Linked DNA regions of Homo sapiens. The protein of the gene in region 7 purifies or fractionates together with the protein of the main gene of each other region. This does not show direct contact. Each region holds a gene or a part of one and is shown on either strand. Other genes may lie near its edges. The genes, in order: ARL6IP6, ATP13A1, CLPTM1L, EMC10, POMGNT2, CYB5D2 and SLC22A17.

The links.
Region 1: the proteins of SLC22A17 (region 7) and ARL6IP6 purify together in Homo sapiens (affinity purification with mass spectrometry; one large-scale study listed by BioGRID and IntAct). This does not show direct contact.
Region 2: the proteins of SLC22A17 (region 7) and ATP13A1 purify together in Homo sapiens (affinity purification with mass spectrometry; one large-scale study listed by BioGRID and IntAct). This does not show direct contact.
Region 3: the proteins of SLC22A17 (region 7) and CLPTM1L purify together in Homo sapiens (affinity purification with mass spectrometry; one large-scale study listed by BioGRID and IntAct). This does not show direct contact.
Region 4: the proteins of SLC22A17 (region 7) and EMC10 purify together in Homo sapiens (affinity purification with mass spectrometry; one large-scale study listed by BioGRID and IntAct). This does not show direct contact.
Region 5: the proteins of SLC22A17 (region 7) and POMGNT2 purify together in Homo sapiens (affinity purification with mass spectrometry; one large-scale study listed by BioGRID and IntAct). This does not show direct contact.
Region 6: the proteins of SLC22A17 (region 7) and CYB5D2 purify together in Homo sapiens (affinity purification with mass spectrometry; one large-scale study listed by BioGRID and IntAct). This does not show direct contact.

Annotation. Positions count from the first base shown.
Region 1 is NC_000002.12:152,756,180-152,760,171, reverse strand, and holds part of ARL6IP6 (ADP-ribosylation factor-like protein 6-interacting protein 6), read right to left. Parts: intron 426-3,992; coding exon 332-425; 3' UTR 1-331.
Region 2 is NC_000019.10:19,653,287-19,657,640, forward strand, and holds part of ATP13A1 (endoplasmic reticulum transmembrane helix translocase), read right to left. Parts: intron 4,123-4,354; coding exon 4,050-4,122; intron 3,864-4,049; coding exon 3,708-3,863; intron 3,631-3,707; coding exon 3,561-3,630; intron 3,481-3,560; coding exon 3,374-3,480; intron 2,898-3,373; coding exon 2,768-2,897; intron 2,648-2,767; coding exon 2,592-2,647; intron 2,369-2,591; coding exon 2,242-2,368; intron 2,168-2,241; coding exon 2,030-2,167; intron 1,954-2,029; coding exon 1,833-1,953; intron 1,415-1,832; coding exon 1,257-1,414; intron 859-1,256; coding exon 683-858; intron 609-682; coding exon 498-608; intron 1-497. UniProt on the Homo sapiens protein: Endoplasmic reticulum translocase required to remove mitochondrial transmembrane proteins mistargeted to the endoplasmic reticulum.
Region 3 is NC_000005.10:1,342,080-1,346,898, forward strand, and holds the start of CLPTM1L (lipid scramblase CLPTM1L), read right to left. Parts: upstream 3,021-4,819; 5' UTR 2,763-3,020; coding exon 2,601-2,762; intron 2,373-2,600; coding exon 2,272-2,372; intron 1-2,271. UniProt on the Homo sapiens protein: Scramblase that mediates the translocation of glucosaminylphosphatidylinositol (alpha-D-GlcN-(1-6)-(1,2-diacyl-sn-glycero-3-phospho)-1D-myo-inositol, GlcN-PI) across the endoplasmic reticulum (ER) membrane, from the cytosolic leaflet to the luminal leaflet of the ER membrane, where it participates in the biosynthesis of glycosylphosphatidylinositol (GPI).
Region 4 is NC_000019.10:50,486,139-50,489,424, reverse strand, and holds part of EMC10 (ER membrane protein complex subunit 10 isoform 2 precursor), read right to left. Parts: 3' UTR 1-3,286. UniProt on the Homo sapiens protein: Part of the endoplasmic reticulum membrane protein complex (EMC) that enables the energy-independent insertion into endoplasmic reticulum membranes of newly synthesized membrane proteins.
Region 5 is NC_000003.12:43,078,105-43,082,304, reverse strand, and holds the end of POMGNT2 (protein O-linked-mannose beta-1,4-N-acetylglucosaminyltransferase 2), read left to right. Parts: intron 1-768; 5' UTR 769-873; coding exon 874-2,616; 3' UTR 2,617-3,071; downstream 3,072-4,200. UniProt on the Homo sapiens protein: O-linked mannose beta-1,4-N-acetylglucosaminyltransferase that transfers UDP-N-acetyl-D-glucosamine to the 4-position of the mannose to generate N-acetyl-D-glucosamine-beta-1,4-O-D-mannosylprotein.
Region 6 is NC_000017.11:4,152,904-4,156,257, reverse strand, and holds part of CYB5D2 (neuferricin isoform 1 precursor), read right to left. Parts: intron 1,585-3,354; coding exon 1,398-1,584; exon of another isoform or gene 1,335-1,397; intron 969-1,334; exon of another isoform or gene 834-968; intron 312-833; exon of another isoform or gene 65-311; intron 1-64. UniProt on the Homo sapiens protein: Heme-binding protein which promotes neuronal but not astrocyte differentiation.
Region 7 is NC_000014.9:23,345,576-23,350,499, reverse strand, and holds the end of SLC22A17 (solute carrier family 22 member 17), read left to right. Parts: intron 1-1,073; coding exon 1,074-1,228; intron 1,229-1,828; coding exon 1,829-1,994; intron 1,995-2,193; coding exon 2,194-2,339; intron 2,340-2,503; coding exon 2,504-2,609; intron 2,610-2,768; coding exon 2,769-2,986; coding exon of another isoform or gene 2,987-3,040; intron 3,041-3,287; coding exon 3,288-3,399; intron 3,400-3,563; coding exon 3,564-3,852; 3' UTR 3,853-4,182; downstream 4,183-4,924. UniProt on the Homo sapiens protein: Cell surface receptor for LCN2 (24p3) that plays a key role in iron homeostasis and transport.

The DNA.
Region 1 (3,992 bases), on a different chromosome or scaffold from region 7:
TATTCAAGTTTTTGAGTTTAAATTCCATTAAAATGTTTCCTACAACTTGAAAGAACTACACACACAAAAGTAAAAAGATGAGGTAAACATCTTATACTCTGAAGAAAGTACTTAATACTCAGATATTCCCAATTAATCTGTATCTTAATACTCAGACATTCTAAAACAATGCTTTAAAAGGTCTTCCATAATGAGGATGATTGTGATAAATATCTGAACTACATAATGAACAGCAGGTTTCTCAGTCTTCTGAGTAGACAGTGATGCTCCTTCTTGTTATTACAAAACAATCATGATTAAGTTTTGCCAACAATATCGCTCCAGTGTGGGTTTACATGAGGCACCATGCTACAGTAAGAGCAGCTACGATGCCATTCAAAATCGCCATGCTATAGCCCATGTGGAAAGAATGTCCAGTCAGTTTCCTAGAAAAAAAGAAAAACACAAATCAAAAAAGAAAAATGTAACGTGGTATAACAAAGACACCAAAAGTTTTCATCGAAAATACTTATGACCTTGGAGTGTATTTCCCAAATGTTCACATATGAATACAAAACTTAAAGAATATTGGACATCTGCAGGATAAATAGTGGATAGATCTTATTAAGTCCTGTGTCAAAACTGTACTGGTTAACAATTACAGTTGTTTCAAATCATTACTGATGAGTAATGCTGAGTTTCATCCCTATTATTTCTTTACTGTGTTTCATTGTCACTGTGTGTAGCCATAACCTAATTCTAAGGTATAAGTTTTGTTATTTTACAAACAGTTCTTTCATTAATTAGCGGTGTGTTTCCATGCTGTCTGTTCTTACTTTGATTTGACTTAAAATACATATTATTTCAAGTATTTGTTCTGTTTGCACCACTTTTAGGTTATATGAAGGAACTCCCTATGTCTTTCATAGATATTTCAGCTATCATTCTAATAGGTTACTTAATTGAAGTGGTTTTCAATGAGTTCTTAAGAATCAGCAAAGACACATCTCTTTTATGATTGCTAGGAGTGCCAACTAGTTTAATAACTCTTATGTGCATGAATATTCCCTGACATTTGTTTCCTTTATCTTGTAACAATCTTACAACAGTTTTTCCCACTAACTGTATTGCAATAATACTATTTGCTTATCCTAGTAAGAATCAGACATATTAAAAAGAAAAGAAGGTAGTATCCAACTGAGACTCTCTAGAAGGCAGAACAGAATACTCTCCTTTCTGGAGCAAAACAAATTGAGGACACACAGGAAGGTGCACTAGCAGAAGTAAAAGCCAAAAGACAAAAGCAGTAAGGGCCCTGGACTGAGACGGTCATAAATACCCATATCCTCTCCTCCTTTCCTAAGGAGTAGCCAAAGCCAGAGAAGCACTTAGCTGTGAACTAACACTTGAAGAGCACCTCATAGTGATTCCAGTCGCACAATATCTGTGGCAGAGATTGAAGAAGGTACATTCTTCAAAGAAGAGCCCTTTGCATTCATCTGAAGCTACATAGACCCTGATGCTTCCTGATGGTTCCCTGCTCTGTTCCAAGGGAGTTATTATTTACTTTCGACTCAACCTTTCTTTACCCAACTAGGGCTAGTCAAAGATGCTTCTCATGTGTTATTAAGGGTTAATCTACCTACCTATATTACCTATCTACATCGTAAAATAGGTATAATGCTTTGTCCCTTTAAAAAAGAAATTCCTCAAATATATGTTGATGACTAGTGAACAGAAACCTAAAGTTGAACAATCAGCATTATCATTCATCATAAAATATTTAGTGACGATCCAAAAAACTTTTAAATTAATACAGTTCGGTCTTCCATATCAGTGGGTTCCACATCTGCGAAATGAACCAAGCAGGTAGAATATATTTTGAAAAAAAAAATGCATCCGTACAGAACATGTATACACTTTTTTCCCTTGTCAATCCCTGAACAATAAAACAACTATTTATATAACATTTACATTGTATTAGGTATAATATTATAAATAATGTGGAGATGTTTTAAAGTATATGAGAGGATATGCTTAGGTTATATGCAAATACTAAGCCATTTTTGAATGAGACTTCAAGTATCCTCAGATGTTGATACCTGTGTGGAATCCTGGAACCAGTCCTTCACAGATAAAGGGGGATGACTGTACTCACCCAATAAAGTTAATCATCAAAAGGTTTCCAGAGTTAATTGTTCTGTTTTAGTAGTTTGTGATCCTCACAATCCCACAAAAATAGAAAAACCTTTAAAGTTCAGTTTACTAAGCCGACAACTACAATGTTGGTAGAATTGAATTTTACTGAGATGTACATGCTCAAATGTTCAGTGACTTCCTTACTAAGCAGGCAAAGCAATGCATTTTAATGGCAATGAAAAAATGCTCGGGAGTAGTGGTTCCTAGTCTTTGTCATCTCAAATGTACCATATTCCCACTGGGAACACTGTAGCAATTGTCACAGACTACTGCTAGGTAAAGGACTTAAATCTTTGAAGAATCACTTGCTTTAATTTAAAGCTTTTCAAAATATTCACCATGATTTTCCTCTTTGGAGGAAGACAGACAATCCCTGCAGGCTTTCTCTCTTGTGACTCTCATTTGTGATCTCTAAAGTCTGTTAACAAAGACTGAAGGAATTATGGTTCTCCTTTGTCAAAACTCTATAGAGGACTTATTTAAAATTGACTCAAGTAAAATGAAAATATTATCTTCAATTAATGAGTTTAATATCTTCAATAAATGATAATTAAATACAATGTCTACCTCATCCAATCTATATCTATACATGCATTTCACTTTTTTAATTAAAGCATACCAGTAAAATGCAAATGTCTAACATTTATATACAGTTCAATGCATTTTTACTGTGGTAGACTCTCATATACTCACCAACCACATAAAGATAGAGAACATTTCTGGCACTGCAAAAAGATCCCTTTTAAATATTCAACTTACCTCCTGCAGATCTTGAGGTAACTGCAATACTGAGGGCTGTCACCAAGATTAGTTTCACTTGCTCTTGAAACTACATCTACATGGCATCATACAATAAATATTTTTCTGCGTCTGCCTTCTTTTGCTCAGTACTGTCTTTGTGAGATTCATCCATGTTGTATGTAGTATTAGTTTGTTCTTTTCTACTGCAGTATATAGCAAAATGTATTTACCCATTTTACTACTGATGGGTGTTTCCAGTTTGGGGCTCCTATACATACAGGTACTATGAACACGTCTTCGGTGGGTGGTGGGAATCTGCACTTATTTCTCTTGGATAGATCCTAGGAGTAGAACTGCTGAGTTACAAGGTAGATATACATTAGGCTTTAGTAGAAAGTATGAAAAATAGTTGTACCAATTTACACTTCCACTATCAACGTATGAGTTTAAGTTGTTCCACATCACCATGAACACTTGGTATTATCAGTGTTATAAATTTTAACCATTTTAGTAGGTCTGCAGAGTATGTTGTAGTGGTTTTAATATTTATTTTTCTGATGATTAATGTACTTACTGACCATTCAGAAAGCCTCTTTTTTGATGTTTGTGTTCAAAACTTTTTCTCATTTTTTTCTATTGGTTTATAGAGTTCTTTACGTATTCTAGATACAAATCTTTTGTTAAAGATACGTGTTGTAAATAATGTTTATTATGGTGTGTCTTTTTTTACTCTCTTAATAAGATCTTTTGATGAACAGAAGTTCTTAATTTGAATAAAGTCCAGTTAATATTTTAAAAAATGGCTAGTGCTTTTTTGGTGGCTTTTTCATTAAATCTTTGACTACTCCAAGGTTATGAAGATATTCTGTATCTTAATGAGGTTTTACTTTTCTTCTTTTGATATTTAAATCTGTAATTCATCTCAAATTAATGTGTATTTTTTGTGTTATAGGACACTGAACACAAAAGAATGAATTTGGTCCTCTACCTTACACAATATACAAAATATACTCAAAATAGACCAAAGACCTAAATACAAGAACTAAGACTATAAAACTCTTAGAAGGAAACAT
Region 2 (4,354 bases), on a different chromosome or scaffold from region 7:
AGGAACGGGGCAGAGCATGCAGGCTGTGAGCTGTGGCCTGGGCTCTGCACACAGTACTGCAACCTGAGGCTAAATTCTGGAAGGATCCGCAGCTGTAGGGTGCAAGCAGAAAGAACGAGAGCCCAGGAAGAAGCCAAGCGGCAGATGTGCCGGTGGTGGAGGCGGAGGGTGGGCTTTGTGGAGGATGGATGGGTGAGAGGGCTGAGGATGCCACCTAGCCCTGCCCAAGACCAGGGCAAAAGAGTAGAGCTAGGGACACACCAGGACTGGGGCAGGTAAGCCCTGCGTGTGCTCTGCGTGAGCCAGGACTGGGTGGGTCCCCACAGCAGTGGACAGACTGAGTGCCATTTGGAGTCTCCAAAGGTAGAAGCTGGAGGCGGGGCAAGGAGGACAAAATCACAACCATTCAACCTGGCACTGTGGGACACAGGAGGTGACTCAGGGAGGAGCTGACGGGCCAGGCACATGGTGAAGGCAGGGGGAGCCTGGGCCCGTACCTGCTGGTGAGTGAGGTGTCCCAGCTCCTTGTACCCCAGCGCCAGGACGCGGGCTCCTTCCCGGGAGATCTCGGTGTGGATGTGGTGGTAGTCGGGCGGGCACTGGGAGAACTGCAGGGAATGCAGGGGGATGTCACGGGCTGCCCCGCGCCCCCACCCCTTGCCCCAGGCTGGGGCCAGCTCACCATGGAGTGCAGAGTTTCGGGGGCCCCCTTCACGGCCGCGATGTAGCAGAGGTCGGTGGAGCCCAGCTTCTCATACGAGGCAAGCACGGACATTCGCTTCAGGGCACTGGCAAAATGAAAGCGCTGGTGAATTTTCAGCCCCTGAGTTTTAATACTTCGGGGGAATACTTTCTCATCTGGAAACAAATAAGTACGAGTCCTGAGGGGCTTTGCTCCAAAGAGGCAGCCAAGCCCCTACCTCTCACCCCGGCCTCCCCCACCTCCCTCCTGCCTCCCCCAGGGCCTGATCGGGGCTCTGGGCTAGAGCAGGTGTTGGTCCAGAGCTGGAAGACCTGGGCTTGGAGGACCCTGGCACTGTGGCTTCGGCCAGGGCAGGGCAGATTCCAACCCAGAGGGACACCCAAGGACGTGGCCTATCCTGGGTCTAAAGTGAGCCTCTGGCCACCCACCTCGGGGAGCATCAGAGCTGTAGGCCTGCCTGTCCCCAAGATGCTCTGAGGGGTGCAGCCCACCTGCCTAGGGCTGTGAGAGCCAGTGGCTCCCCCTTGCTGGGCCTGAGGCCCCAGCCCCTCACCTTTGGTCAGCGTCCAGTCCACGGCCGTCAGCATGGCCTTCTCTAGAGGGTCACCCACGAGGGTGCCGTCGTCCAGCTGCATGAGCGAGTGGCACGAGGCCAGGGCCCGGTGTGTTTCTACAGGGATGCTGGACACTGGGGTCACCTCCTTCCCGTCTCTGCAAGGTCGGGGAACAGCTGGTTACAGAGTGCAGGCGGGTAGGGCGAAGCTGCATCCCCACCAGCAGAAGGACCCCCAAGGCCATTCATTCCGTGCTTGTCACTGGGGTGGCTTGGGCGCCAACTGGGTCTTTATGAGACCTGCACCTGCTTCACAGATGCCCCCAGAAGCCAGGCATTGTGCCTGGGGGTCATGTGGTGCATGGCTGGTGTGGGATGTTCCAGGCCTGAGCTGAGCCCCCGTGCCGCTACCATGGCTGACACCCAGGACTTTGTGGGGAGCCCCTGGAAATGAACCCGAGGCAGGGCCTCTGACGGGCCCTCACTGCAAGGGCTTGGGGTGGATGGGCCACCTGTCTCTCGACTTCCCAGAAACCCCATCTGGGTGACCTTTGCTGCAGGGCCCCTGATGCTTACCTCAGCCCGGCCACACCGCGCACCACCAGGCTGTCACTGGTCAACGTCCCCGTCTTGTCAAAGCAGCACACCTCGACCTTGCCAGCAAAGGGGATCCGGAAGGGCTCTGTGCAGTACATGTCTAGGGGCGGGAGTGAGGTCAGGGGTCCTGCTTGGCCCCAGCCCACTCGGCACCCCATCCCATTTGACACACTCACAGAGCTTGGCCAGGGCGATGAGGGAGGTGTTGACGGCCAGGGACAGCTCGATGGGCAGCTCAGGAGGCACGACCGAGGTGAGGATCAGGGTGCACTCCAGAAACAGCTTGTAGCGGTTCCGGCTGGGGTCCTTGGTACCTGTGGAGACAGGGCCTGCCAACCTGGAGCCTCGGAGGGTGGGCGCAGGGGACCACAGAGGCCGTGGCGCTTACCTTCAATCCATACATAGGCAGCTGCAGCGATGGCAAACACCAGGAGGAAGAGGATGAAGATGAAGGTCTCCAGGTTGTTCGCAGTCACCCTCTTGACCCCGAAGAGGATGGTGCGCAGCAGCTTGCCCTGGAGGAATGGAGGAACAGCCTTTCTGCTGTCTGGACTCCCTCCAGCAGCTCAGGCCTGGAAGCGTGGGCCTGGTCTTGGGGTGGCCTCTGCACCCTGGCCCAGGTCCAGGGCCGTGCTGCCAGAGTCAGCCCGTGGGGCAGATGTTCTGGGGTCGGAAAGGGCTGATACCTTGGCTGTCCAACTGCCCTGGGGCCCGCCCTCCCCAGACCTGGCCCCGCACCTGGGATGTGTTGAATCCGGTCCGCAGGACGTAGGCCACGCACCCGCTGTCAACCGCTGGGGAGAGAAGCAGAGTCACCGTCATGCCTGTCTCCTCGTCCTGACTCCCTCATGATCAAGCAGACGGGCAAAGGGGGTGGAAGCCCAGATACCCCCAGACGCCCATGAGGCACCTACGCTTCAGGCCCGTGGTGGCTTTCTGTGGGGGGATGTGCTGCACCACCTTGGTGCCCCCGAAGATGACGTGCAGCCGGGAATCAGCCTGGAGGTCCAGCACCCGGTCTGGGCTGAGGTCTTCGATGGGCTCCTGGGGAGGAAGATCGTGAATCTGGATGGCCAGGCCTACCTTGCTTCCTTCTCCATCTGAGTTCCTGGACAGCTGGACCTTGAGGCTGGAATGAGCCAGGGGGATCCCCACCCGACCAATACATCCCACCCAGCTCCCAGATCCTCACCCTCACCCCGTCCTGTCTTCTCCCCATTGCACTCACAGTGCCTGCTCTCTGGGGCCTGCACTTGGCCTCGTCTGGGACTCACCCCTCTGGACTGCTCCCAGCCCACCTTGGTCTGACATCCCAGGGCACCAATGTACCCTGGATGCCCTTGGCTCTCTCACCTCCTTCCTCGCCCCCACCACCCGGCTCCCCAGTCCACAGAGCTCATCTGTGCCCACACTGCCTCCTCCGCCTGTGCCTGAGGGGGATCCCCGCCACCCCCTGGGCCTCCACCTCCTGGCCTGTTTCCTCCTGAACAGCTTGAGGATCCCCATCCTCCACCAAGTACCTTCATCTGTGGCACGGACTCCCCCGTGAGCATGGCCTCGTCTACGATGCAGCGGCCTCGCAGCAGAAGCACGTCACATGGCACCAGGTTCTCCTGTGGGGAGCGGCCTGCAGGGCAGAGGCAGGAGGGTTGGCCAGAGGCCCTGAGGCTGGGGCTCCCACTGGGACTGAGCGGAACCCGGCCTCACCGATGGAGACGATGTCCCCTGGTACGATCTCATCACTGGCAATGGGCCTCCACTTGCGGCTTCGGTAGACCTGGGCGGGGCATGGGTGTCAGCACAGAAGCCGCACCTGTGCTGCACCCCCAACCTGGGTCTCCCTGGCAGCCACACCTGGATCATGTGGGGCTTGTTGCCCATCTTCCGGATCTCCGACATGTTCCGCATCTGCTGCTGCACCAGCGAGGCCTCGAACGCCACCAGCATGGATAGCGTAAAGACGCTGTAGTACCAGTACTCATCCAGGCACCAGAGCCCCACACAGAACACCTGTGGGATACCAGCCTGTCTGTCCTTGCCCTACCCGCCCTGTTCCCATGAGCCCCTTCCACCCACCGGATCTGATATGTGAGGGTGGGGAGAGGCTTCCAGGTTTAGAAGTGGTGGGCAGGCTTGATCCGGTTAGGAAAGCCCCAAGGGAGGAAATGGGGAGATGGGCCAGAGCTGCTGCTTTACCTGAAATACAAAGAAGGGGGCTGTGGCTCTCTCCTTGAAAAGCTCCGAGAAGTCAGGCACCACCATCTCGGCCCTGCAAGAGACCAGGCCCCATCCTGTTCCCAGGGCAAGGCCTCTGGGGTATGGAGTCTCCACCCTGACCCCTCCAACCTGAGCATGGCAGGCCGCTCTCAAGAAACCAAGAGCCATATGTGGGCGTCGGGAGCCCTGGCGAGCTTCCAGATAGGAGGATCCATTTGGCAGTGGCTCTCCCTCATCCTGGCTGAGCCTGGGGTAGACATGCTGCCCGCCCACAGCCCTCGGCT
Region 3 (4,819 bases), on a different chromosome or scaffold from region 7:
GTGGGCGCCTACAGCCGAAAGCAAAACGGCCCGCACTTCCTGCCTCCATCTCAGGAGGCTGAGAGGTCAATAACCCACCTGAGGCCACAAGGCTGAAGCAGCCAGATGGAAAGCAGCTTCTGGGCCTGGCCAGGGTACCAGCTGACCACACACACTGAATCACCCAACTCCGAAGCGACAGAAGGGAAGGGCAGCAGCCACGAGGGCTCCAGGTGCCTCGGCCCACACTACTGGAACCTCAGAAATTTAATGTGGGTAGTTTTTTTGGGTGTTGTAGTTTTAAGGATAAAAAGATGATCAGCCACAAAGGACTGACTTTCAAGGCTGTCAGTCCTGACTGTGTGGCATCCAGCACGAGCTGAGGAAAGGCCCGGCGAGCTGCTACAACTGTAGGCCTCGGACCAGGTGCCTGGCTCTTCACCCGCACACCAGGGCCCGACGTCCATACTACAGCCCCATGGAAAAACCTCGCATTCCACCTGTTTACGGTTACATGAGTTCTTCTTCCTCTTTAAAAGTCTCTTTTTTGAGACAAGGTCTCGCTGTCACCAGGCTGAAAGTGTAGGGGTGCAATCACAGCTCACTGCATCCTCAACCTCCTGAGCTCAAGTGACCTCCCGCCTCAGTCTCCCGAGTAGCTGGGACTACAGGTGGGCGTGCCACCATGCCTGGCTAACTTTGAAAACTGTTGTAGAGATGGGGTTTTGTCACATTGCCTAGGCTGGTCTTGAACTGCTGGGCTCAAGTGATCCTCCCGCCTTGGCCTCCCAAACTGCTGGGATTATAGGCATGAGTCACTGTGCCCGGCCTCTCCTTAAAAATCTTACGGTTGGCCGGGTGCGGCGGCTCACGCCTGTAATCCCAGCACCTTGGGAGGCCGAGCCGGGCAGATCACGAGGTCAGGAGTTTCAGACCAGCCCAGCCAACATGGTGAAACCCTGTCTCTACTAAAAATAAAAAAATTAGCCAGGCGTGGTGGCGGGTGCCTGTAGTCTCAGCTACTTTGGAGGCTAAGGCAGGAGAATCCCTTGAACCCGGGAACCGGAGGTTGCAGTGAGCAGAGATCACGCCACTGCACTCCAGCCTGGCAACAGAGCAAGACTCTATCTCAAAAAAAAAAAAAAATCTTACGGCCAAAGTTGTAATGAAAAACACAAAGGCATCTATGGCTCCTCACTACCCAGGAAAGAGTATGTCTCCACCAGGACATCTTAAGTGTCTCTCTTCAGGCAGAGGGTGCAGGGCTGTGTATTTCTGGTGGAATGTGCACTTGGAGACACTTGAGGCGGAGCTGTGTTAAGAGTGCTCATTCTCCCCACTTCCTCCAGGCTGACACTGTGCCAGGTCAAATGGAAAACCTCACTAGCTGTCCTTGGTAACTGGTACACGGCCCGGCACGGAAGAGGCAGTATTCATGTCTGGGAAATTAAACCCAGTGCAGATGAATCCTGAGCATTTTTGAAAGGTGTGGGCAGCTACAACCGAGCGGGCAGCTTGGTCACCAGCACTTCTGGCCTCCCCTTCATGGAGGCAGAGAGAGGGCAGGAACTGGCTTGAGGTCACAGGCCTAAAGAGGCCAGGCAGAAACCGGCTTGCCAGCGCCTCCAGCTACCCCCAGGGACTGGCTGCCTAGAGGGCGTGGAGTCCAGCATGAGTCTCAAACTTTCATTATTCTCTCCTCAGATACCTCCCAGGCAATGAAGGGAAATGGTTGACTTGTGAGAAGCAAATCATATTTAAAAGTATACTTATTCAATTAAAAAAAATTAGGCCATGTCAGATGTAATTTTTAAGATACTCTACATATTTGGACATTGATCTATTCTAACGTCACATGTCACTTATTTATGATTTTCTACAAAATTGCTTCCTCTATCCTCATCTCTTTTCCCTCACAAGTAACTTAAGCGAACTACTTCCACCAGGAAAAGACAAGTTGGTCCCCGGTAGTGAAACTGCAGAGTTGTCTGCTCTCCACTGGTTCACCAAGCGTGGCCCCTGCTCCTTCGGAGCCTCCCCGTCCAGGACATCCCACTGCCATCACACTCTGCTGAGAACTACTTCTTAAACGACATTCATCACCTGTCACCTTCCAGGCTGAATGTTTACAGGCCACGCATAGGCCTCCAGTTAGGATATTCTACCACTTCAAGACATTCGGTAAGACTAGTTCTCTAAAATAAACATGTTATGTACAGAAAGCTAACTTTTAAACAATCTGAACATGAGTAATGTTTTCCCTTTCACTGGCATTTTGTCCTACGCCCATACCTTTCAAATTTGGACTCCACATCAAAGTCTTCCACATTCAAGACCAGGTCGATGTTGTTCTCAGCACCCAGGTGGGACCTCGTCGTGGTGTACACGCTCAGCTGGAAAGGAGGGGGCGTCGAGAGTCAGCTCGGCCAGGCCCTGGCAGGACGCACTCAAATCCCACGGCCAGCTGGAGGGCGGAAGACCTGGCCGCTGGGGAACCAGGAAAGGTTCCATCTCGACTCGCGCGGCCACAGCTCCGAACTGGGACGGGAAGGCGACGTCTGGGGCCTGGAGGAGAGGCCCCCACCCCAACCCGCCCGGCCCCCGGCCCCGCGGACGCTCACCTGCAGCTTGGGCCGCCGCGCCAGGTAGGGCTGGATGCAGTTGGCGTCGCCGGAGCACGGGCGGGTGTAGACGATGCCGTACATGACCCAGCAGGTGTGCACCACGTAGACCACGAACACGCCCACCACCAAGCTGGTGAAGGAGCTGCGGCCGCTCCACATGGCGGCCCCGCGCCCGGCGCCCCCGGCCCGCCCGCCTCTCAGCCGCGAGCCCCGCCCGCCCGGCGCCCAGCCCGCCGCTCCGGGCTCCGCCGCTCACTGGAGAGCCGCCGCGCGCCACCGCCACCGCCGCGGGGGAACGAATGCGCCGCGCGCCGCAGACCGCCGGCCGCCCCGCATGCTCCGGCCCCGCTCCCACCTGGCGCCGCGGGATTCGCCGGCCCCGCGCGCCGCTTCCGGGCCCCGCCGCCTGCCGGAAGTGGACGCGCCGCGCGGCTCCCTGGGAAACGGAGTCTCGGCCGCTGCCGCGCACGCGCATCCAGGATGCGGCGCGTGTGTGACGTTACCCGCCCGCGCCGCCCTCCTGGGGTGCCTCTCAGGGACCCAGGCGCTCAGCTGCTGGGGCCGCGGAGGGCGTTCGCGGGGCGCCGGGGAAGGCTAGGGCCGCGGGGTCCCCGGGGCGCCGTCCCCAACCGCCGACGCCTGCCAGACCACCAAGTGGGGGCCATGTCGACGTGTGAGGAGCCTGGTGGAAGGTGATACTGGAATTCCGGCACTGGGCCTGCAACCCTTTTAGTCCACAGTTGTCAGAATCTAAAGGGAAGAAAAACGAAGTGCTCAGAACCCTCACAGAAGCCGGGCACCTCATCCCGTGTGTGGGTTTTTTCCCCAGTACAAACCCATTGTGGGGACAGGCGCTTTTGAAGAAAAAATTCAGATTCCCGGGCTGAAGTGGCTCCTCACAGCCTTGAACCTGACCCCCAGCTTCCCGCTAAAGCCGAGCGTGCCCAGCACGGCGAGGTCAGCAGAGGCCCCTCGGAGGGCGGCCGGGGGAGGTCAGTGGGAGGCCCTCGGGCAGCCGGTGGATGGGCCGGCGACCTCCCCGACTCCATCAGAAGCGCTCAGTCTGTGCCCTTCAGTTACTGGAGCAGCTCCCGTCCTTTGGCCAGTTCTCTGGAAGGTCGTTTCCGTTTCTGTGTCTGCCACACGTGCAGCACAATCGAAAAACCTTGTTCGACATTTCTAGAAAGAGTAGATGCTACTGAAGACCCAATAGATTGCTGAGGGTTTTCAGAGCAGGGACAATTGCATCAGGGTGCTGGGCTCCGGGAAGAACTCAGAGGACTTGGCTGACGGGCGGATGGGACAGTGATTGGTGCCGAGAATGGGCCAGAGAAGCAGGTCTGCCTGGAGCAGGCACCCGAGGCCGCGTGCAGGGGCGGTCCTGGGCCACCAACCCCTGGAAGCTGGGCCAGGAGCTTCGGAGCCATCCGAGGCTTTTTTCGCTCCTCTCACTCTCATGCACCTAGTTACCCTCCCCACAGAGTCTTCTCACGGCGCGGTTTTCGGCTACCATTGCAGTGGTGTCTGACTACACCCAGTGCCTCTATCGTTCCCCCCTCAGTCTGTTCTCGCTTCTTGGCAAACCTGTCCTTGGAAAGCCCTCTGCTGACTCCTGTTACCCTGATCAAATGCATCCTCCTCAGGAGGCTCGTGAGCCCTTTGCAGGGTGGCCCAAGAGGCATCACGCCCTGCTCTCCAGCCACTCTTGGGGTCCCCTACAGGGCCAGGCGTCCCACACCAGCAGCGGGTGCTGGTCCTGCCACAGTCTGTGCGACACGTGAATGAAGGCTGTAGACCTGTGGTCTGCGGGAGGCAAATTCCAACTCCAGCTGTCAAACATAAGGGGACTGGTAGGCTCTCCAGGGTGGATTGTCTCACGGCATCCAGAGGCAGGGACCGAGGCAGGGACCTAGCCAGGCCTCGGGAAGGAGCTGCAAACCCAGGAGCTCTGGGGTGTGGCTTCATCTCCCTCCCTCCCTACCACCCTACCCCCATCTCTCCGTGTTCTTCAGATGCCTCATTTTCCTGTCAGGCACCTGGCCAGCTCTAGGAGCTGGAATCAGGTTGGTGCCTCCTTGGTCAGTGTCCACCCCTAGTGTCATCCACAGTGACCAACGGAAGGGGTGGCCGGTGGTACAGGACATTGGCCATCTTGGGAAAGATCACAGAGACAGGAAGGGCCTCTCCAGCTGAGCAGATGAGAGGTTCTTCAGTGG
Region 4 (3,286 bases), on a different chromosome or scaffold from region 7:
CAGCTGGAGGGGCATGGTCCTCTGTCGCTACTTCCAATCCTCTCTCCCTTCTTTCTCTCCATATTGCTCTTCCACACTCATGCACCTCTTCTTTCCTTTCTGCTTTTTTTCTCGCTCACTCACCCGCTGGAGTGCAGTAGTGCAGCCTCCACCTCCCAGGCTCCAGTGATCCTCCTGCCTTAGCCTCTCAAAGTGCTGGGACCACAGGTGCGAGGCACCATGCCCGGCCTGTTCTTTTCTCTCTGCCCTTTTTTGTATTTTTTCCTTTCTCCTTTCCTTCTTCCCTAATGTCTGTCTCTCTCCTTCCCTTCTTAACTTCCCTTCTCTCTCCAGCCCTCTCCTACCCTCCTTTTCTCTTTTCCCCTATCTCCAGCCCTCTCCTACCCTCCTTCCCTCCCTCTTTCTCTCTCCCCCTCCGCACCGCTCCATCTCCCTCTCGGTCCAGTCCGCTGTCTGTGCCCCCTCTCTGTTCCGTTTTCTCTCCCACCCTTCTTCCCTCTCCCATTTCTTCTCTTTTCCCCTCTTCCTGTTCTCTTTTTCTCGCTGTCCTCTCTGTGGCCACCCTCCTTTTTCTCACTTCTGCTCTCCCTGTCCGGCTCTTCTCTCTCCTCTCTCCCTTCTAGCAGATTCTCTGGCTGTTTCCTCTCCTCTCCCTCTGTGCTCCTCCCTCCTCCTCTCTCCTCCCAGCCACTATCCTCTCTCTTCACCCTCTTCTCTTTCTGTCTCATGGTCTCCTCCTAGCTCTTTTCCTTCCCAGTTCCTAGCTCTCTCCTTTCTCTTTCCTCTTCTCTGGCTGGAGCTCCCCGCTCCTCCATCCCTCCCTCTCCCGGGGCCCCCTCTCCCCCACCCTCTTCTCCCCCAACACCCTCTCCCCCACCCACTTCTCCCTAGGACGCTCCCTCCTTCACCCGTTTCTCTGCTTCCCTCTTCTCCGAGCTCACCAGCCATGGCACCCACCCTCTCCCTCTCTTCCTTCCTGTCCCTTTTTTCACCCCCTCGTCTTTCTTTCCTCTTCTGTTTTTTCTTCTCTTTCCACTTCTGACCCCCTACACTGTTTCCTTCTTTCTCCCTCTTCCTCTCTCCCCTCCTGCTCTGGCCATCTTTTCTTTTTTTTTTTTTTTTTTTTTTTGAGACGGAGTCTCGCTCTGTCGCCCAGGCTGGAGTGCAGTGGCGCAATCTCGGCTCACTGCAAGCTCCGCCTCCAGGGTTCACGCCATTCTCCTGCCTCAGCCTCCCGAGTAGCTGGGACTACAGGCGCCTGCCACCATGCCCTGCTAATTTTTTTTTTGTATTTTTAGTAGAGACAGGGTTTCACCGTGTTAGCCAGGACGGTCTCGATCTCCTCACCTCGTGATCTGCCTGCCTTGGCCTCCCAAAGTGCTGGGATTACAGGCGTGAGCCACCGTGCCCGGCTCTTTCCTCCTGCTTTTTTCCTACACTCTCTCCTCCCTCCTCTCCTCCCTCTTTCTCCTGTTTGATTTCCACCTCTTTTCTCTCCTCTCTCCTCTGAATCTGCCTCTTCCTCTTCTCACCTCCCTCTTCCTTCCCTGTCTCTCCCCCTTGGGTCTCTCTTCCTTCCCTCTCTCTGGTTTCTCTGTCTCTGCCCTGTCCTTTCCTTTCCCTCCTCTCTGGACCTGTCTCCTCTCCTGGCTCTCTCTCCTTCAAGCTCTCACTCCCACTGGCCTCCCTCCCGGGAGCCCCGTCTCCTCCGTCTCCAGGTGGCCCCTGCATCCCTGCCTGGTGGGCCTTTGCCTCCCTCTCCTGTTCCTGCCTTGCCTGCTCCCAGGTTTCCAGGTCCTGACCAGGAGGCAGGAGTCCATACCGAGGCCCAAACAGGCTAGCCCTGAGCAGGGCCCCCAAGCCTGAGGCCCAGGAGTGGACAGACCTTTGTGACACCCATTCTCTCTTCCTTTTCCATCTGTCCGGAACTCTGGACACTGCCTGGAGGAATCAGGCCTGCCGTAGGCCCAGGAAGGCGGAAACAAAGACGACGCTCAGAGACAGGAAGCAACTTGCCTAAAGATACACAGCACGTAAGGAGCAGGGACAGGACTGGGTGGGGCCCCTGGGGTTGGCCAGGAGTGGGCTCCTGAATCTGCCGATCCCTGGCCTCCTATCTGAGCTCAGTGAGCAGCGGATGACGCCTTTCTGCTCCATTCCGCTCCCTTCCCAACTCTTCCTCTGACAACATGAAGCACCTCAGCACTGAGGGGACCTCACCTGAATTCCATTTCAGAAATGAGAAAATTGGTGCCCAATGTTTCTGAAGACCAGCAACTGCTAAGACAGAGACTTCGAGGGAACCCGACCTTGCCTGAAGGACCAACAGCGCCCCCTGCAGGACACTTCCCTCCATTGAGAGAAGCCACAGGCGCCGGCCTGAGGCATTCTGAGTGCGTGGAATCCTCTATTACCACCTCCTGGCAAAGAACGGAGCTGCAACCCAGCTATATGAGACACCGAGAATGATCTCAACAAAAAGGAACAGTGACCAGAATGCCTGGGGGAGGAACAGGGGATACTGGGTGGAAGGAGGGGAGAGGGAGAAGTTGTAATATTTTGTAAAAATGAACATTTTTACTCCTAATCAATATACAAACATCATGCTCAGCAAACTTCTTGGTATGAAACTTCTGAACTTCACACATTTTCAAGTCATTCTATGGGTGGGTGGATTGGCTCCCATGGAAATGCAACTGGGACTGCACATGGGAAACAAAGGAAAATGGAATTTGGTTCACACAAACCTGTTTGGGAGATTGCATTTCCAGGAAATGGGCCAAATTGAGTTTGTTTCCTTTGTAACAACATTGTTGTGCCTTGCTGACTGGAAGGTGGGTACAAATAAAGGAGGATGGACTGACAGCTGAAGAGGCACCAGTAATTAGCCCCTAATCCTTACCAGGGAGTCTCTCTGATGGGTTAAAGAAGCCTACAGAGGCCAGGGGCGGTGGCTCACACATGTAATCCCAGCACTTTAGGAGACTAAGGTGGATCGCTTGAGGTCAGGAGTTCAAGACCAGCCTGGCCAACATGGTGAAACCCGGTCTCTACTAAAAATACAAAAATTGGCTGGGTGTGGTGGCACACGGTTGTAATCCCAGCTACTCAGGAGGCTGAGGCAAGAGAATTGCTTGAACCTGGGAGGTGGAGGTTGCATTGAGCCAAAATTGAGCCACTGCACTCCAGCCTGGGTGACAAGTGAAACTCCATCCCACAAACACACCTGCCCCCCACCCACCAAAAAAAAAGGAGCCTATAGTTTCCAGTAGACAATTTGGGGTTA
Region 5 (4,200 bases), on a different chromosome or scaffold from region 7:
GTCTCTCAAAGGCGGCATACTGGGGTCTTGGTGTGCAACCTGGGAACAGTGTTCACAGATCTCCAATGCCAGTTGTTCTCATTTAAGGAAAAGTCATTACCCAGAGTCCAGGAATGTCAGGCCCCTGCAAGGGATTTTCCTATGGCCTGTCTTTCCTATGGCCTCTCTTTGTTAGCTTTTGCTGCAGCAGTGCTTCATCACAAACAGCCCCAGAATTTCAGGGATGTTTAATCAGCTGTTGCTCAGCCCTGATGTCTATGTGTTGGCTGATCTTGGCTGCGTTTGGCTGATCGCACTGCTGCTCTTGGCTGGGCCCACTCAGTCATGAGGGATCAGCTGAACTAGAACAGGGCATGGCCGGAGCAGTTCTGCTTCATGCGTATCTCGCTCCTCTTGGGGCCAGCAAGTTAGCCTGAATACATTCTTCTTATGGCAGTGTCATAAAGAGGGCAAGGCCAGCCCAAACACTTTCCAAACCTTTGATTATGTTCTGTCTGCTGACATCTCACTGGCCAAAGCAAGTTAAATGGCTAAGCCCAAAGTCGGGTGTGGGGATGCACTTTCCAACATGGAGGCGATGGGGAGGGAGAGAATATTTTAAACAATGGTCTAATCTACCACGCCTACCAATGTGCACAATGGCTGCAAGGATCCAGTGCTGTAGCGGGCACACAGAGCCTAGCTACCGTGCCTGGCACATAGCAGGAGCTTGTAATGATGCCAGGAAGACTGCCAATTCCTTTTTCTTTTCCTTCTCTCCTCCTGCAGGCTTTCACCAGTTCTCAGGATGCCCATAGGGATGGGTGAAGCCTGCCTGGCCTGTGGTGCTTCCCAGTGGCCGTCATCTCATTAGGGCCCCACAGTGGCATTAGGATGCACCTCTCGGCGGTGTTCAACGCCCTCCTGGTGTCGGTGCTGGCAGCGGTCCTGTGGAAGCATGTGCGGCTGCGTGAGCATGCAGCCACACTGGAGGAGGAGCTGGCCCTCAGCCGACAGGCCACAGAGCCAGCCCCAGCACTGAGGATCGACTACCCGAAGGCACTGCAGATCCTGATGGAGGGCGGCACACACATGGTGTGCACGGGCCGCACGCACACAGACCGCATCTGCCGCTTCAAGTGGCTCTGCTACTCCAACGAGGCTGAGGAGTTCATCTTCTTCCATGGCAACACCTCTGTCATGCTGCCCAACCTGGGCTCCCGGCGCTTCCAGCCAGCCCTGCTCGACCTATCCACCGTGGAGGACCACAACACTCAGTACTTCAACTTCGTGGAGCTGCCTGCTGCTGCCCTGCGCTTCATGCCCAAGCCGGTGTTCGTGCCAGACGTGGCCCTCATCGCCAACCGCTTCAACCCCGACAACCTCATGCACGTCTTTCATGACGACCTGCTGCCACTCTTCTACACCCTGCGGCAGTTTCCCGGCCTGGCCCACGAGGCACGGCTCTTCTTCATGGAGGGCTGGGGCGAGGGTGCACACTTCGACCTCTACAAGCTGCTCAGCCCCAAGCAGCCTCTCCTGCGGGCACAGCTGAAGACCCTGGGCCGGCTGCTGTGCTTCTCCCATGCTTTTGTGGGCCTCTCCAAGATCACTACCTGGTACCAGTATGGCTTTGTGCAGCCCCAGGGCCCGAAGGCCAACATCCTCGTCTCAGGCAATGAGATCCGGCAGTTTGCACGGTTCATGACAGAAAAGCTGAACGTGAGCCACACAGGAGTCCCCCTAGGCGAGGAGTACATTCTGGTCTTTAGCCGAACCCAGAACAGACTCATTCTGAATGAGGCAGAGCTGCTGCTGGCACTGGCCCAGGAGTTCCAGATGAAGACAGTGACAGTGTCCCTGGAGGACCACACCTTTGCTGATGTCGTGCGGCTGGTCAGCAATGCCTCCATGCTGGTCAGCATGCATGGGGCCCAGCTGGTCACCACCCTCTTCCTGCCCCGTGGGGCAACTGTGGTAGAGCTCTTCCCATATGCTGTCAATCCCGACCACTACACTCCCTATAAGACGCTGGCCATGCTGCCTGGCATGGACCTCCAGTATGTAGCCTGGCGGAACATGATGCCAGAGAACACAGTCACACACCCTGAGCGGCCCTGGGATCAGGGGGGCATCACCCATCTGGACCGGGCTGAGCAAGCCCGTATCCTGCAAAGCCGTGAGGTCCCACGGCATCTCTGTTGCCGGAACCCCGAGTGGCTCTTCCGAATCTACCAGGACACCAAGGTGGACATCCCGTCCCTCATTCAAACCATACGGCGCGTGGTGAAGGGCCGGCCAGGACCACGGAAGCAGAAGTGGACAGTCGGCCTATATCCAGGCAAGGTGCGGGAGGCACGGTGCCAGGCGTCAGTGCATGGCGCCTCCGAGGCCCGCCTCACTGTCTCCTGGCAGATCCCATGGAACCTTAAATACCTGAAGGTGAGGGAGGTGAAGTACGAGGTGTGGCTGCAGGAGCAGGGGGAGAACACCTACGTGCCTTACATCCTGGCTCTGCAGAACCACACCTTCACTGAGAACATCAAGCCCTTCACCACCTACCTGGTGTGGGTCCGCTGCATCTTCAACAAGATCCTCCTGGGACCCTTTGCAGATGTGCTGGTGTGCAACACGTAGCGAGCAGGCCACAGCCTGGCCTCGGGAAGGTGGCTCCTGCAGTTCAGCGTCCCTGGGCCCATTAATCCCACTGTGGAGACTTCTGGGAACTATTTATTGAGCAGGCCTGTGCCTCCACATCATCTTGTTGTCTCTGGGGTGTGGTGTCACAGCACTCCTCTTTGCCCTAGAGATAAGGGACCTGACTTCCCCTTCTCCCATCCTGAACATTTGTACCCCTGGAGAAGTTCCTTAGCAGGGAGGAGGAAGAGGAGAGGAGGAAGCAAAGAATCACAAGGAACCTCTGGCTAGGTGATCCTGATGTTTCCTACTGAGTTTTTCTGGTATCCAGATTTCTGGAAACCGAGTAATCATGTACTGTTTGATTGGGTGGTTCATCTGCTTCCATCCCAGTGAAATTTACCTGTAGCCCAGTGAAGGGTGTGTTTGGAACATTCATTAAATGATTCTAAGCATCTTGGTCAAGTCTTCTTATTGGATGGGAGGAAGGGGAGCTGGTCGTCAAAACCCAGGTGCCCTTTAATCTTGATTGTTAGCTAGGGAGACGTGGCAATGGGAAAGCGCCCAGGATGGCAAAGTGAGCAAGCTGGTTGGATTTCATCTTGACTAGCTGGACTAATATCACAGTTCCACCTACATGGGATAAAAGCCTAGAAGTAGGTAGGAGAGGGCTGAGGGGAGGAAGAGCTGTATCCACCATGGGTTTTTTTTTGGGCTCAACTAGACATTAAGACTCGCAAGACCTGGACAGATCATACCTGGCATCAGAGTTTCTTAGAAGGATGGAGAGAGATGCTCAGCATGCCAGCAGGGCCATGTCAGCAGTTCCCTTCCACAGGAGCAGTCCTTACATCAGTACTCCTGAGGGCCACCTTGATTCAGAAGCCCATGCCCCATAGGAGTCAATGTGTTTTCAACAACCCACAATCAGAGTTCCCAGGGTCCCTCAAGGGACATGCCCAGTTATGAGTTTCTGCACTTAGGGAAGCCTAAGGCCATGGTTTCTTACCAGATGGTATAGCTTATTCTTTGTCCTTCCAGCCCAGGTGTAGCTTATCAATCAGAGGTCAAAAACTCCCATGGGCAGTTTGGCCTAATACTGTACCTGACATTCAGCTAACTGGCTTGTCTGGCTTCCATGGGAGCAGAGCTAGAAAGTTAGCCCAAGATAAAATCTGTCCTGAAGAAAGAGGAGTTTTGGCCTTTTATTGTTGGGGAGACCTGCTGCAGGTCTGACTCCTGTAAGGGGGAGAGGGAGAGAAGCTGGGGAGAGGAGGTAGAGCCTCAGGCTGTAGCTCAGTGCTGAGAACCTCTCAGCAGGCTGATCGGGGAGTTTTGAGCCAAAGGTGTCCATTAGATAAGTATTCCCTCCCACCCGCCGATGCTAGTCGTCACCTGGGAGCCGCAGTGGGAAGTGTGGCCTCAGCATCAGTACCTTGGTGGATTCAGCATGGCAGCTGAGCCATCCCTTGTTCTCTGCTGCAGGAGATCTGAATGGTGCATTTTCATGGTCGCCATGGATCTTTATGACATTCCTTTCATCCAGAATATCTTTCTCCCTAACTGTAGCTTCCATCTGCTGCC
Region 6 (3,354 bases), on a different chromosome or scaffold from region 7:
GCACCCTCCTATCTTGGGCAGGGGCCTTGCCCACCTCAGGGCACTGGGCTCAGTCTCTGATGGACTCAGAGGCCTTGCAAGAAAGAAACTGAGGTTCTTGGAACTGACGCCTCAGACAGCTTCCGGTGCCTGCTGTCAGAGAAACTGCCCCCAGCGAGAAAACATCCTACTTCTAGCTTACCAAGAACAAGGCTGTCACCCAAACGCCTCCCTCTTCTACCCAGCCTCCATCCCATCATTGGGGATCTGTACTCCACACCTTGTCCCTGCCTTCGGCACTTGTTCCTCTCAGTCTAATGGGACACACACAGGTGAACAGAAGACAACAAACTGAGCTGAGGCACAGGGATAGGGCCCCGCAGTTCACTAGGGTGGCCCTGGAAGGGTTTTGTGGGGAAGGCAGAGCCTGAACTACTCAGTCATGAAAGCAAGAAGAGGTTCAGGAGACACAGGGGAAGGCTGTGGGGAGGGAAAAGGAGGCAGGGCCCAAGGAAGCAAAGTCAAGCATCTGAACGCACGCAGGCCTCCTGGAGTCTCCTCCTCCTGGAGTCTCAGAGACCAGTGCTCTCTGAGGCTACCTGCATTCAGGCCTGTGTCACAGGAAGGCCCACGCCTATCTTAGCTTCTCTCCATAAAGTGAGCAGGCCAGGTTCTCACAGTCCCCTCTTTCTTGAGATGACACTGGAGAAGCTGTCTCTTCAAAGCTAGCGGCCAGGAAAGAAGGAGCTTTCCTTCCTGCTACCTTTGCCCTTGCTCCGCTCATTTAAGGCTGAGAACTCCGAATTTGCAGTGGTTTTTTTTGTTTGTTACTGTTTTTTTGTTATGTTGCCCAGGCTGGACTCCAACTCCTGAGCTCAAGCGACCTGCCTGCCTCAGTCTCCCAAGTAGCCAGGACCACAGGTGTGGCCCACAAGCCACCATGCCCGCCTCACCTGTTTTTAAGACAGCAGTTGAAGCCATCACTGCAGGTACCCTCCCCACCTCCTCGTCCCTCTCCTATAGATAGGCATGATTTGTGCTGTCAAACAGGAAACCAAAGCCCGTGGGTGGCTGAGCAGGCCAAAGAAAGCAAGAAATCCTGCTTGTGCCTTCTCATTCCCGGGTCAAGGTTGTGTCAGCAGGATCTTTGGAGAATTCGGAAAAAATAAAAAGATGCCCAGGCCTCAAGTCCAAGTCTCAACCCATTCAGTTGAGTGGAGTGAGGTCTGACCATCCGTAATTTCGGCAATTCCCCAGAAGATCTAATATGCAGCCAAAGTTGAGAATTATTATCAGTATTTTGAAAAAGCTCCCCAGGGTTAACAATCAATTCCTGAATTCACTGAATACTGCAGGCAGGATGGCCTAGGAGTTGGATTTGGGACAGGCAGAAAGGAGAAGAAGGGGAGCCTGCTTACCTCTTCTGGGAGCACCAGAGCCGGCTGCCCCTGGCTGAGCTCCACTCCGCGTTGCACGGCGGGAATGTCTGCTTCTCTTGCAGCTGTAGTTTGTTGGCCTCCAAGCCTCTGGTGATCGCAGCTTCTACCTGGGTCAGTGCCGGGGTGGGCAGCCCATCCTCTCCGTAGAACCGTCCTGTCACCCTCCCTGTGATGACAGGAAGGCAGATGTGAGTGAGAGTGAATACTCAGCTGCTGAGGCAGGTGTGGGAAGGCACAAGTTCCCAGGGTTTCTGACTTCAGTCCTGCTGGTGCGCGTTTAATAAGAACTTCTACTGCAGGCACTCCTGGTGCCTTGCACACCAACCTCTTAGCACCCTACAAGCCCCCACACAGCTGCATCCCTCTTCTAGCTGCAGAGCCCTTCAGCACAGAAACCATCAAACCTCTCTCACTTCCAGACAAGGCTTCCCTGAGGGCACAGCCATGTGTGATTCATTTCTCCATGCTTCCATGTGCTTGGAGCACACGCTGGGTATTCAATTAATGTTTGATGAATGAATGGCTTATTGGCTAACATTTTTTAAATGTTTATTATAATAGAGATGGGGTCTCACTCTGTTGACCAGGCTAGTCTTGAACTTCTGGGCTCAAGCAATCCTCCCACCTCAGCTTGTTGAGTAGATGGGGGTACAGGTGTAAGTCACACTGTGCCCGGCTTTAAAATGCCTGTCAGAATTTGTAAAAGTCTAAGCTATGGCAGCAGCCAGCAAGTGGTCCACCAGCCTATAGGCCAGAAGGAAAAACAGGTCAGTTCTCTCAGCCCAGGGTCCTAATGTAGCCCAGTCCTGAGGTGCAAATGCCCTTCAGAGGCAGCACCTGCCACAAGGCAAGAGAAGCAGAAAGGAAGCACTTGAGGGAGGTGCGACCGAAGAGGGAGCAACCCCTAAGAACTAGCTTTACCTTCGATTCTAGTGGCGCGTATGTTCAGCGCATCTGAGATTCAGCTCGTCTCCCAAGTCCAACGCCCTCCCTGACTTTCCCAAATCCGTGTTGCCTCTAGCCTGTGACCTGCATTAGGAGCCTGACTCCTCCTCCTCTACATCCACATCATACTCCCTTCCTTGCTGTCTGATCGGATCCATCAGAAAACCTCGTCAGTCCTACCTCTGAACAGATCCTGATTCTGTTCACTCCTTTCCATTCCCACTGCCATCACCCTCCTCCAAACCACGGACTGTGGCAGTGGCCTCCTAACTGCTCTCTGGTCAGCTCATGCCCTCCTAGAGTTCTCTGTCCATAAAACAACTAGGGGATCTTTTAAAAACATGAATCCTACCATGGCTCTCCGATGCCTGATTAAAACCCTTCAATGGCTTCTTAAAGCAGACAAAAATGCAAATTTCTTATCAAGGCCTCTAAGGCCCTGTAACCATTTAACTGATTTGCTTCTTCAGCCTCTTACAAGCTACGTCCCCCCTCGTTCACGGGGGGCTCCAGCACACTGGCTTCCTTTCTGTGTCTTGGCTGTGCTTCCCCACTCCCCACCTTCGCACCGCTCTTCCCTGACCCAGCACACTCTCCTCAGGTCTCGGTGTGGCTGCCTCCCACTCACCTGCCGGTCTCAGCTTAACGGTCATTTTCTCCAAGAAGCCACTCCTGAGCATGTGCTCTAAAGGAGCCAAAGCTCCCAAACGTATTACATCACAGTTTGATGCATGGTCCTATGTGGAGTTGTTCAATCTGTTTACTTGTCTATGATGGCTCTCTCTACTAGTGAGGCGCAGTACTCAGAACAGCTTAGCGCCAGGCGCAGCGGCTCACACCTGTAATCCCAGCACTTTGGGAGGCTGAGGCGGGCAGATCACTTGAGGTCAGGGGTTCGAGACCAGCCAGGCCAACATGGTGAAACCCTGTCTCTACTAAAAATACAAAAATTTGCTGGGCGTGGTGGTGCATGCCTGTAATCCCAGCTACC
Region 7 (4,924 bases):
CATAGTTAGTGACCATAATCACTTACCAATAGTCTCATCTCCCCTGGTCTGTGACCTTATCCTTACTGATTATTCCCATGGATTAATAGATTCATCCCACTGATCAATAGTCCTACCTTATGGATTAATACACCCATGTCTATGTCCCCACTGATCTTTCTTTTTTCTTTCTTTTTTTTCTTTTTTCTTTCTTTTTGAGATGGAGTCTCGCTCTGTTGCCCAGGCTGGAGTGCAGTGGCATAATCTCAGCTCACTGCAACCTCTGCCTCCCAGGTTCAAGCGATTCTCCTGCCTCAGCCTCCCGAGTAGCTGAGACTACAGGCACCTGCCACCACACCTGGCTAATTTTTGTATTTTTAGTAAGGATGGGGTTTCACCATATTTGTCAGGCTGGTCTTGAACTCCTGACCTCGTGATCTGCCAGCCTCGGCCTCCCAAAGTGCTGGGATTACAGGTGTGAGCCACTGCGCCCAGCCTGACCATTCTTAATGTATTAATAGACCAATGTCCCACCTCCATGGAACAATGGCCTCATCTCCAAAAATCAATTACTCAGTCCCCTAATATCATTGGCTTTACCTTCACTGACCAGTAGTATCCTCATGCACAAGTGGCCAATGGCCTCCCCTCCACAGGTTAATAGTTCCAACTCCGTATATCAATGAACCCCCCTCCCACATCTCCTCTGAACAGTCTGAGCAAGATAAGCTCCAGGCCCACTGACCATTAGCTCTGTTCCTAAGGATGAATGGTCCCAAATCCCCTAAGCAATATCCCATCCCCTCTGTTGAGTGATGTCACATCCATTGACAAGTGCCCTAATCTCTGACCAATAGCCCAAGAGTCAATGTTCCCACCTCTTAAAGAACCACAACCACACCCCAGTGCCCAGTAGCCAGGCATCACCCACCCATGGTCCCCATCCCTCCCCATCTTCTCAAGCCTCTGTCCAACTCTTGCTCCCAGAACTTCATTCTCATACCTCTAGCTCTGAAGTGTGCAGCTGGGTCTTACCCAGCAACTTTCCCACCACCAGAGAGTCTGGGTGACCAGAAGCCCTTCCCACTTTCTAGATTTGGCCGTCGCGGGATTGTGCTGCTGACCTTGGGGCTGGTGGGCCCCTGTGGAGTAGGAGGGGCTGCTGCAGGCTCCTCCACAGGCGTCATGGCCCTCCGATTCCTCTTGGGCTTTCTGCTTGCCGGTGTTGACCTGGGTGTCTACCTGATGCGTAAGTGGCACCCTCCCAGAATTCCCTCCCTTGGGTCTCATGCCTACCTGCCTGCATCGCCAGGCCATCCTCACTGCCCCCTAGGCCACATTTCAGCTGCCTAGAATCTCAGCTATCTTTCTGCCCAGGCCCCCTTGAAGAATCCAGGGCTCTTGCTTCTCTCTACACCTATCTCCCCCTCCCGACAATCTTTAAAGTCTTTGTCCTGGACTTACTGCTGCCAAGGAATAAGGTGCTATTCCCCTGATAGCAGTAAGTCCAGGGACAAGGATTGTCCCTAGCTGTGTGACCTTGGACAAGGGTTGATGTGAAGGTCAAATAAGAGGCCTGATGGGAAAGGGCCTATAAATTGGAAATGTTGAACACTCACCCAGGACTCTGGCCCTAGAGCCCTCCTAGGTTTGAGCAGGAGAGGAGAGAGGGCTGAACAGTCTCCCCAGTCCTTGCCACCCAGAGGTTAGCAAGGGAGGCAATGGCTGCAGCCTCCACTCTGGGTCTGACCTCTCTCTCTGTCCTCCTCCCTCCCTCTTTCTTCTTCTCTCTTATGCCTTCTTCCTCCCTGGCCTCCCTCTCCTCTCTCCACCCCTGCTGTATCTCCAGGCCTGGAGCTGTGCGACCCAACCCAGAGGCTTCGGGTGGCCCTGGCAGGGGAGTTGGTGGGGGTGGGAGGGCACTTCCTGTTCCTGGGCCTGGCCCTTGTCTCTAAGGATTGGCGATTCCTACAGCGAATGATCACCGCTCCCTGCATCCTCTTCCTGTTTTATGGGTCAGTATTACCCTTCACCTGTCGTCTGGCAATTCCCATCTCTGCCTCCAAACTAGCCCTAGCCCGGAGACCCCTCCTCTTCTCCAACTACCCCTGGTCCAGGCCTACCCCAGCCCCAGTCCCTCAGAGGTGCACATTTCCCACCCCTAGATCAGGAGAAGGGAGGCCTCACAGTATACCCCTTCCCCCCTGCCCCCAGCTGGCCTGGTTTGTTCCTGGAGTCCGCACGGTGGCTGATAGTGAAGCGGCAGATTGAGGAGGCTCAGTCTGTGCTGAGGATCCTGGCTGAGCGAAACCGGCCCCATGGGCAGATGCTGGGGGAGGAGGCCCAGGAGGCCCTGCAGGGTAAGAGACAGGGATCCCTGTGAGTGTTGCCTCACTTGCACACATGATGGTGCCCTCTGCATGGCTGTAGCTGTGCCACCTTCTCCCAGGGTCCCCACCACCCATGTGGGAGGATCCTGGGATCTCAGGGTTTTCTTCTGACAGCTCCTCTCTCTCTCCCAAAGACCTGGAGAATACCTGCCCTCTCCCTGCAACATCCTCCTTTTCCTTTGCTTCCCTCCTCAACTACCGCAACATCTGGAAAAATCTGCTTATCCTGGGCTTCACCAAGTGAGCCTGGGTGTCTGGGCTGAGGGCCAGGCCAGTAGCTGGAATGGGGGCTGGCTGGGTGGGAAGGCCCGGGGACCCCTGCGGAGGACCATCAGCACTGTAGAAGGCTGCGGGAGGGGATTCAGGCTCTGTTCGTTGCTTCCCCACCCCTTCTCACAGCTTCATTGCCCATGCCATTCGCCACTGCTACCAGCCTGTGGGAGGAGGAGGGAGCCCATCGGACTTCTACCTGTGCTCTCTGCTGGCCAGCGGCACCGCAGCCCTGGCCTGTGTCTTCCTGGGGGTCACCGTGGACCGATTTGGCCGCCGGGGCATCCTTCTTCTCTCCATGACCCTTACCGGCATTGCTTCCCTGGTCCTGCTGGGCCTGTGGGATTGTGAGCATCCTATCTTCCCCACAGTGTGGGCTCAACAAGGGAACCCCAACAGAGGTGCTTCAGACAGGCACAGCCATTTCTTCTGGCACAGGCCTCCCAAGACAAGCCCCAGACCCTGCCCAGCTCTTCCACGAGCCTCCACCTGGCCCCACAGCCCCATCTGCTCTCCCAGTCAATTACTGAATGCCCAGAGCCTGCCCAGCTAGAGCCATGGGAACAGAGAGCCAAGGGGATGACACCCGGGACTAGGCCAGCCTTGACCTCCCCACCTGCATTCATATCATCCCTCTTGCTTCTGCAGATCTGAACGAGGCTGCCATCACCACTTTCTCTGTCCTTGGGCTCTTCTCCTCCCAAGCTGCCGCCATCCTCAGCACCCTCCTTGCTGCTGAGGTCATCCCCACCACTGTCCGGTGAGAGCAGGGGTGCCCCCAGGGGCAGAGCCGGGCCCCCTCGCCTCCCGCTCCCCCACCCCACCCCTGAGGACAGGGCCTGCGGGCTGGAGGAGGGGGGCTGCGGGAGAAGGGCCCAGCAAGGCTACAGCTGTGGGCTGAGCTCCTCCTCTGTCTCCCCCCAGGGGCCGTGGCCTGGGCCTGATCATGGCTCTAGGGGCGCTTGGAGGACTGAGCGGCCCGGCCCAGCGCCTCCACATGGGCCATGGAGCCTTCCTGCAGCACGTGGTGCTGGCGGCCTGCGCCCTCCTCTGCATTCTCAGCATTATGCTGCTGCCGGAGACCAAGCGCAAGCTCCTGCCCGAGGTGCTCCGGGACGGGGAGCTGTGTCGCCGGCCTTCCCTGCTGCGGCAGCCACCCCCTACCCGCTGTGACCACGTCCCGCTGCTTGCCACCCCCAACCCTGCCCTCTGAGCGGCCTCTGAGTACCCTGGCGGGAGGCTGGCCCACACAGAAAGGTGGCAAGAAGATCGGGAAGACTGAGTAGGGAAGGCAGGGCTGCCCAGAAGTCTCAGAGGCACCTCACGCCAGCCATCGCGGAGAGCTCAGAGGGCCGTCCCCACCCTGCCTCCTCCCTGCTGCTTTGCATTCACTTCCTTGGCCAGAGTCAGGGGACAGGGAGAGAGCTCCACACTGTAACCACTGGGTCTGGGCTCCATCCTGCGCCCAAAGACATCCACCCAGACCTCATTATTTCTTGCTCTATCATTCTGTTTCAATAAAGACATTTGGAATAAACGAGCATATCATAGCCTGGACTTCCCTCCCTTCTGTTTGTCCTTCTATCTCTTGGGGGAAGGTTTTTCTCAGTGGAATGCACACCGATAACAAGCTCCCCTCTCCCTCCTTGTGCCCTGCCCCCAGTGGTGACTTACAGACAACTGTCACCACTTACTGACTGCTTGCACTGCTGCCAGAACTGGCCTAAGCACTTGACACACTTCGTATCATTTAATTTTTACAGCATTGCAAGGTAGGTGTTTGGATCAATTAGGGGTTGTTGTTGTTGTTGTTGTTGTTGTTTGTTGTTGTAAGCAATAAAAACTGGCTCTAATGAACTTAAGCAAAAAGGGAATTATTCGATTTGGTGGGGCAGGTTGTGGTGGGAGCTCACAGAATGAAGGAGAAGCAGAACTCGTCGTAAAATAACTAGTCAGGAGCGGAGAAGGCTCCTTGTCTGAGGAGCAAAAACCAGCAACATTTTTGTCAGGGCTTCTTCTAGATGAATGAGCTCCAGTGCAATTTAATCTTTGGGTTATCCCACTGAAGATTAATTTCCAGAGAGCATGTCACTGGCTAGCTAGAGTAACATGCCTCCCACACCCCTATTTCTCCCAACTGGGAATAGGTAAAGCAAAATTTGGGCACTGTTAGCAGAAGCGGGACTGGGTGTCACTCAGAAAAAAACAATGGAAGCTCAGTACAGCATTCTTATTCTCTTAAACAAGATGAGAAAACTTATGGTCAGAGAGACTCAGTAACTGGC